Linked DNA regions of Homo sapiens. The protein of the gene in region 1 interacts with the protein of each later gene in a pairwise test. Each region holds a gene or a part of one and is shown in the gene's direction. Other genes may lie near its edges.

What was found. The genes of interacting proteins can lie anywhere in the genome.
Region 2: the proteins of LMO4 (region 1) and ZNF213 interact in binary tests that used the Homo sapiens proteins (3 or more experiments, as listed by UniProt).

What each region holds. Positions count from the first base shown.
Region 1 is NC_000001.11:87,326,688-87,330,434, forward strand, and holds the start of LMO4 (LIM domain transcription factor LMO4), read left to right. Parts: upstream 1-2,192; 5' UTR 2,193-2,557; intron 2,558-3,747. UniProt on the Homo sapiens protein: Transcription cofactor. Plays a role in establishing motor neuron identity, in concert with MNX1, acting, at least in part, to disrupt LDB1-LHX3 complexes thereby negatively modulating interneuron genes in motor neurons.
Region 2 is NC_000016.10:3,132,929-3,136,675, forward strand, and holds the start of ZNF213 (zinc finger protein 213), read left to right. Parts: upstream 1-2,100; 5' UTR 2,101-2,459; exon of another isoform or gene 2,460-2,517; intron 2,518-2,528; exon of another isoform or gene 2,529-3,747. UniProt on the Homo sapiens protein: May be involved in transcriptional regulation.

The sequences.
Region 1 (3,747 bases):
TGAGAAAATTAAGGCCCAGAGACGGAAATTTACTTGCACATGACAAATCATAACTTAATTGTAGCCCACTAAGATCTTGTGTCATCTCCTTTTATTATAAATTATTTAAAAAGTGAAAATGAACCAGGGGATTCAAATGTATTATTTGTTTATGGTGTTCCTCTCCTCATCTGGTTTAATTGAGTTTTCTTGACTAACCTTCAAGCAGCATTACATCTTTTCTAAGTTGGTCCTCTTTAATCATGCCCATCTGTAGCTGTTTTCTGTGTAGGACATTTTAATTACTATTATAGTTTTAATGACTTTTTTTTAAAAAAAGTTTTTTATATGTGCACAAGGTGAATTCATCATAGCAGTGCAACTTTAAATACAAATCAATAAAATTAATTCATTTAATTTTAAGGTGCTAGAATTAAAAAATGAGTATTTGAATTGATATTTAAAATGCCCTCTACCTGACTGTATGGGCAATAATTATTCTTTCTTATGCAGCCTTATTAATTTTGATGGTTTGAAAGACAGAAATCCCCCAAATAGACACTAAAACCCTAAATGTTCAACATCTGCATTGTCTCGCCAGATTCTCCTTCAGGTTCCTTTCCTCAATCTAGCAGTACTGTGTGTAACACAATATGAAAACTTGCCCCACAAGGCTGGTTTTACTTAATGATACTTAGCAGAAGGGCTTTGCACTTTCATGATAATTTCCACCAGAAAAATCTCTCTGGAACTTACTAACAATAATCAGGCCTAATATTAGCCTCAGTCTGGAGATTTATTTAACCTATTTGGCAGAGTAGATAAAGTCGAATGCCTAGGTATTCAAGCATCTAGGCTGTGCTTCGGCCTTGGAAAAAGACTCTCAGGCTAGCACCCTAAAAGCATTCCTCAAAACTTGATTTATACTAGAAGTGACATTTCTTACTCTCTAGAGGCTGTGAGATTGCAAATCTTGCAATTACTTCCATTGCTTTTGGGGGCTGTGAGAATTTCCGCCTCTCATCCTCCACAGTGAGGAGGGTAGTCGGGAAAGGCTTTCTCCCTTAAGTTTTCGTCAACTTTGAAAATAAGGACTGTGCTCCCTACATCACCAGCAATTGACAAGGATCCAGGAAATGCCTGCTAGGCACTTTCAAACTCGGAAAAATGGGAGTATGAGGGAGGCTAAGTAGGCAGTATTTAGCTAGCAACTATTATTTCCTTTATGTTTCTACCTTGTTAACTAAGCTTCCACTACGGTTCATAAATCTCCAATATCGTGAATTAAAGAAACAACAACAAAAATCCTCTTCTGTGTGCTTGTGCGTGAGGGGATAGAAGTCCACTGCCCTAAGATGCAGGACTTATCTTCCCAAACAGGAAGAGACCCATTTCTGAGAAAGATGGTAAGTTTCCTAAGGGTCTCCTCTCAGATAGAGGGGATGGCAGTCCCCGAGGGGCGAGCGGGCGCGGGTCCTCAGGGTCCCCGTGCGCTGAGAAGGCAGGTGAGGCCCCGCCCTGCGTCTCGACTCCGGATCCCGGGTCGCGAAGGGCAGCCCAAGCGGGTCCCCGGCCCCAGGCGCCCGGGTCACTTCACCCCACCTGATTCGGGCCCTTCCCTTCTCCTCTGTCGGCCAGCTCTGCCGCCTCGCTCTCTCTCCCGCCCCCCGAGTCTCGTTTCAGTCATCCCTTTGTCCTTCCCCGGATTGGCAGGTTTTATTATTCCGCCTGAACAATCCGGCCGCCCAGTGGCTGAGGGTCGCTGACGTCGGAGGCAGAGCCGGGGAGTAGTTGGGATTTTGCTCTGTCAGTAACACATGTGTAAGAGCCGCGGAGGGAGCGAGCGAGCCGGCTAGAGGCCAGCGCCGCCGCCGCCGCCGCCTCCGAGCCGGGCAGCAACAGCCCCGGCAGCGGCGCAGGCTCCAGCGCGCCGGGCCCGGCCGGCCGCAGCCCCCGACGCCTGGGTGCGCCTGCCTGCCGGCCTCCGCACCGTCCGCCGCCGCTCCCGGGGCTGTTGTGTCTGCGACTGCTCCCGGCCGGAGGTGCAGGGAGCTCAGCCGAGCCGCCGCTGCCATCCCGGAGCGAGCAAGCGAGCGAGCGCGCGGGAGGGAGGAAGGCGGCGGCGGAGGAGGAGGAGGAGCGGGAGGAGCGCGGGCGGGGGCGGGGGCCCCCGGGCGGGGGAATATACAAAGTGAAGCCACATTGCCAAACTTGCAGCAGCGATTGCAGCAGTTGCTGCCGCTGCGCCGCGCCTGAAGCCGCGCCGCGCGGGCCGAGGGCTCCTGCAGCTGCTCGCGCGCAGTCGGAGGCGGAGAAGGACGAAGACTGAGACTGACACTTCTGCTCCCGGCCGCCCGGCACTTACGCGGGGGCCCCCCAACCCGCCCCAGAGCAACGCGATTTAAAAAAAAAAAAAAAGCCGCCCTTAGCCCCCTCCTCCCCTTTCCTGCTTCTGCGAGAACTCCCTCCCTCCCTCCAGCTCCGCCAGCCCAGGCGCCCCTTCCCTGGAAGCCGAGCGGCTTCGCTCGCATTTCACCGCCGCCGCCTCTCGCAATATTGCAATATAGGGGAAAAGCAGGTAAGGGGGCGGGTGGAGAGCCGCGGGCCGGGAGGTGGGAGAGGGAGGGAGGGGGTCGATTCGGGCCAGGGCTGTTTTCTTTGGCTTCCTTCCCCTGACCGTCCCAAATTGCAAGTAAACAATACGTCGGCTTAGATAAAGCGCGAGTCTGAAACTACCGAGGCCGGCCTGCGAGCTAGCGCGGAGGGCAGCCCCGGGCCGCCAGCTTTGTAGCGGTTCCTGCTTACAAAAGGGCTCTTCTTGGAAACGGGGCTGGTGGGGACCGTAGAGGGGGTGGGGATATTTCTAGTTCATAAGGGAAAGGCAAGGGGTGCTTAGATGAGGATTTTAAGTATGAGAAGTAGTGTGTTTGGGGGGGTGGGGGTGGGGATAGTCACGATACCCCCCCTCCCTTCTAGTAAACACTATTTTTGAAACAGTGGCAGGAAGGATCTAAGTGAGCAGGATTCGGTATTGCTGGTTCTTTTAAAAAAATTCTTCTTGGCTTATAAGTCTTTTGTTCCAATCCAGGAGAAATACGGTGAATCACCTAATTAAAATCAAGACATGAATTAAGCATCCATTTTTGTACTACAAATTGCCAGCGTTACGTTTGTCCCTCCCTTGGTCTCCATTAAAAAACACCAGAGACGTTGTTAAAGGGGGGCAGATTTTGCCTCTAGCTGCCAGTTCTGCTTTCTATTTCACTGACTATCCCAGGACCTAAATTGCTTGGCTATGTAATTACTAGAGTATAAGCCTATTTAACTTAAAAGCTTTCTTTTTTTTTTTTTTTTTTCCAACTCTAAATGAAACTTGATGAGGGCCCGTCCTTAGTTATCAGGGGAGTCAGTTTCTGGTCAGTCTTCTTGATTCATCTCTTTTAGATTTAATCAGCATTAAGGTATTGCTTGTCCTTAAGAGCTTTAGCTAATGGGGTTACTGGATGCTTTTCTCAGTGTAATGTTTCCTTTTCAAAAAAAAAATACATATATATTTACCTCTCACTAAAGATGGGGGCGGGGAAGAGCTTGGAATCTCCTCCCTCACTCTCCTTTTAAAAAGGAATTCGGAGCGATTAAAACGTTGGGGGAAACAGTTTAAAGATCTAGGGCAGGAAATGCAGATTCATTTGGGTTAGGGCTGAAATTGTAACAAAAAGCAATTCCTCGAGTAAATGCATCAGATAAATCAATTTACATAAAGGTATG
Region 2 (3,747 bases), on another chromosome or scaffold:
GTGAAACCCCATCTCTACTAAAAATACAAAAATTAGCCTGGTGTGGTGGCGTGCACCTGTAATCCCAGCTACTAGGGAGGCTGAGATGGGAGGATCGCTTGAACCTGGGAGGTGGAGGTTGCAGTGAGCCATGAAATTGCACTACCGCACCAAAAAAAAAAAAAAAAAATTTAATTACTGTGGACCTTATGGGGACGCTACATCAAGCTGTTTCCCAATTGAATTGGAATGCCACAACAACGGCTGAACACTGTAAATGTCCAAATCTGGAGGAACAGAGGAAGGTAAACATTTGATTCTCAAGTGGAAGTTCAAAGCATTACATTCTTTCTGGAGGACAGTTTGGAAACATGTACACAAAGTAATCTGGCAATTCCATTTCTAGTTTTTCTCAGGGAAATGTTCAAGCAAATGAATAAAGGTGTACGTAGAAGCATATCTGCAAATACAGAAAGATGGAAAAAATCTAAATGTCCAAGGGTGGGGGACTTAAAATATGAAAATTCCGCCAGGCACGGTGGCTCACGTCTGTAATCTCAGCACTTTGGGAGGCCGAGGCGGGCAGATCACCTGAGGTCAGGAGTTCGAGACCAGCCTGACCAACACGGAGAAACCCCGTCTCTACTAAAAATACAAAATTAGCCGGGCGTGGTGACACATGCCTGTAATCCTAGCTACTCGGGAGGCTGAGGCAGAAGAATCGCTTGAATCCAGGAGGCGGAGGTTGCAGTGAGCCAAGATCGCGCCACTGCAGTCCAGCCTGGGTGACAGAGCGAGACTCTGTCTCAAAAAAAAAAAAAAAATATATATATATATATATATATATATATACACACATATATAATATATATTCACAGGCATATAACTGTCTGAACAGTAAAACTGTAAGAACACACTAAAACATGAATAGTACTTATTCCTGGATGGTCGTATTAGAAATGTTTTTTACCTTCATTCATTAAACAAATATTTACTAAGCATCTACCATGTGCCAGGCACAATTCTAGGTGCTTGTCATAGGGCATTAAAAAGTGTCTGCCCTCATGAACACTTATCGTTGAGTCGTGGGAAACACGTATATGTCAGGTAGTGATAAACATTAGGGAGAAAAGTTAACGCCGAGCACAGGTTGTTTACAGAGCTGGGGAAGGCCTCCTTGAGGGGGTGACATATGAGCAGAATGAGGGAGCAAGCCTTGTGGCTATCACGAGAAAGCTATCTTTATGGTTTTCCAATTAATTTTCTAAATTTTCTCTTCCAAGCATGCAACACCTACATAATTAAGACAAAACAAACCAAAAAAACTCTTTCCATTTATGAAAGAGATCTGGAGCCTGAAATCATCTCCGGGTCGAGGCGTGGAGAGAGTGGGAGAGGATCCGAGGGTATGGAAAGGACCCCGAGCCCCCCTGCTCTAGATCCCTCCGGGCCGTGGGACCCCTGACGCCCAGCAGCAACTCGTGGACAAAGCAGCTGGTGAGAGAACGCGGGACTCCGGCCAGGTCAGTGTCCCGCTTGCCGCGTCCTGCTAAGGCGACCCGAAGACAGAGGATCGCCGCAGGAGGCTCCGCGCCCCTTACCCGAGGGCACTTCCCAGCAAGCTCGACGCCTCTCCAGGGAATTGGGAGGAGCGGGACCCAAGAGGCTAGAAAAGAGTCTCCCCGGCCCGAGCTCCACGGCCCGCGGCCTTTCGGCCCTCACCTACTAGTTGGCAAAGAAAGACCGTGGCAGAAGGAAGAGGCCGCTCCAGCGCATCCCTTCGGGCGGAGCAGAAGCTCCACTTGTGGCTAGGCCATGTGCCCTCTCCGTTCCTCGGGCCAGCCTTGGCTTCCCCTTTTTGTCGCTCAAGGGCCAGGGTCGCAAGGAAATGTGAAAAAAAAGCGGAGACAAAAGAGAACGAGGTAAATCTAGATGCAGAGCCTCGCCTTTCCTCCCGGGTGCAGGTGTATGACGCGTATGGAGTTTCTGTCTTCTAATAGGCAGCCTGAGAATTCTTCCTGTTCATTGGCCATCGGTCATGGAGAAGGCGGGCTCAGTGGACGAACGGCTTTCTGGGAGCTGGGGAATGCTTGCGTAGCGTAGTTTCCCAGCGAGCCCCGCGAGGACTTCCGGCGCCGGGAGCTCGCGGCGGAAGTGGGATCTCCTGGGCCGTAGTGGGCGTTGTGTGTTTCGGGGGCGGGGGCGGGGGCGGGGGCCGGGGCGGGGACGGGGCCTCTGGCCGCCTGGCTCCAACATCAAGCACCGGGCTCCGAGTGGCCGGGATCAGCGCCCCGAGGCAGAGGCCGGAGGGCGCGCGCACTGCTAGGAAGTGCTGGTCCCCCGCGCCGCTCTGCCAGCTTGGTCCCCCGGCAGACGCCCCTGTACGATCGCCGCTCGCCCCGCGGGCGAGGCTGCGGTGGACAGCGCGGGGCTCCGGCTGGCTCGCCTTCCCGCCTGCCGTGTCCTGCTGAGCGACCCTGGTGAGTCCTGGCCCTCTTCGAGGAAAGTCTTCTTCGAAGTCACCAGAGGATGAGAATGGTGCGCGCACCTTTCAGGGGTCTTGTGAGGAGCAGAATAAATAAAGTGCTTAGGATGGACTAAAGAATTGGAAACAACCCGAATGCATCACTCGAGTATTGATTAAGAAACTAGAGCATATCCATACCGCGGAAGCTCATAGTGCCGCTAATGTCTGTGCAGTAAGGTCTCATTTATGTAGAAACACATCAAGCACCTTTTCTCCCCGCTATGGATGACTTTTTTAGTAAAAGCACAGGAAAAGGTCTGGGACGTCATTTGTCAGACTGTTAAGTCGGGGGGTACAATGGTATTGAGGAAGGGAGAGTTTTACAGATTTCTATATTGTTTGAATCTTCCCTTTTTTATTAAGATGGTTTGTATTTTTTTCATTTTCTTTTTACTTTTCTTTTCTTTCTTTTTTTTTTTTTTTTGAGATGGTCTCACTCTGTTGCCCAGGCTGGAGTACAGTGGTGCGATCATAGCTCATTGCAACCTCAAACTCCTGGACTCAAGCAATCTTTCCTCCTCAGCCTCCCCAGTAGCTGGGACTACAGGAGCCCCACCTGGCTTTTTTTGTTTTTTGGTACAGATGGCGTCTCACATTGTCTTCCCAAAGGGGTCTTGAACCCCTGGCCTCAAGCAATCATCCTGTGTCTGTCTCCCAAAATGCTGGGATTACAGGCATAAGCCACCAAGCCCGGCCAGTTTGTATTTTTATTGTTGAAACAAAAAATCGATTACTGAAAATTGCATAATACACTTTTCAGTAGAGAGTAACAATGTAAGGTATAAATGTGTCATACATTTATATGTACCTGTGGATAAATGGCTTTGGATGGTGTCTGTAAGCCCTTCTGTGACACCTCAGGGCCAGATGTGTTTTGGAATTCAGAGGTTTTCAAATTTGAGAAAGATAATATAGTGCACAGACGATATATCAAGCACATCTCCAGAGGGATCTGGGGCAACACTAAATAATGAAACATATCAGTTAAAATTTTTTAATTAGGCCGGGCGCAGTGGCTCACGCCTGTAATCCCAGCACTTTAGGAGGCCGAGGCGGGTGGATCACAAGGTCAGGAGTTTGAGACCATCCTGGCCAACATGGTGAAACCTCGTCTCTACTAAAAATACAAAAAATTAGCTGGACGTGGTAGCTGGTGCCTGTAGTCCCAGCTACTTGGGAGGCTGAAGCAGGAGAATCGCTTGAACCTGGCAGGCAGAGGTTGCAGTGAACTGAGATTGCGC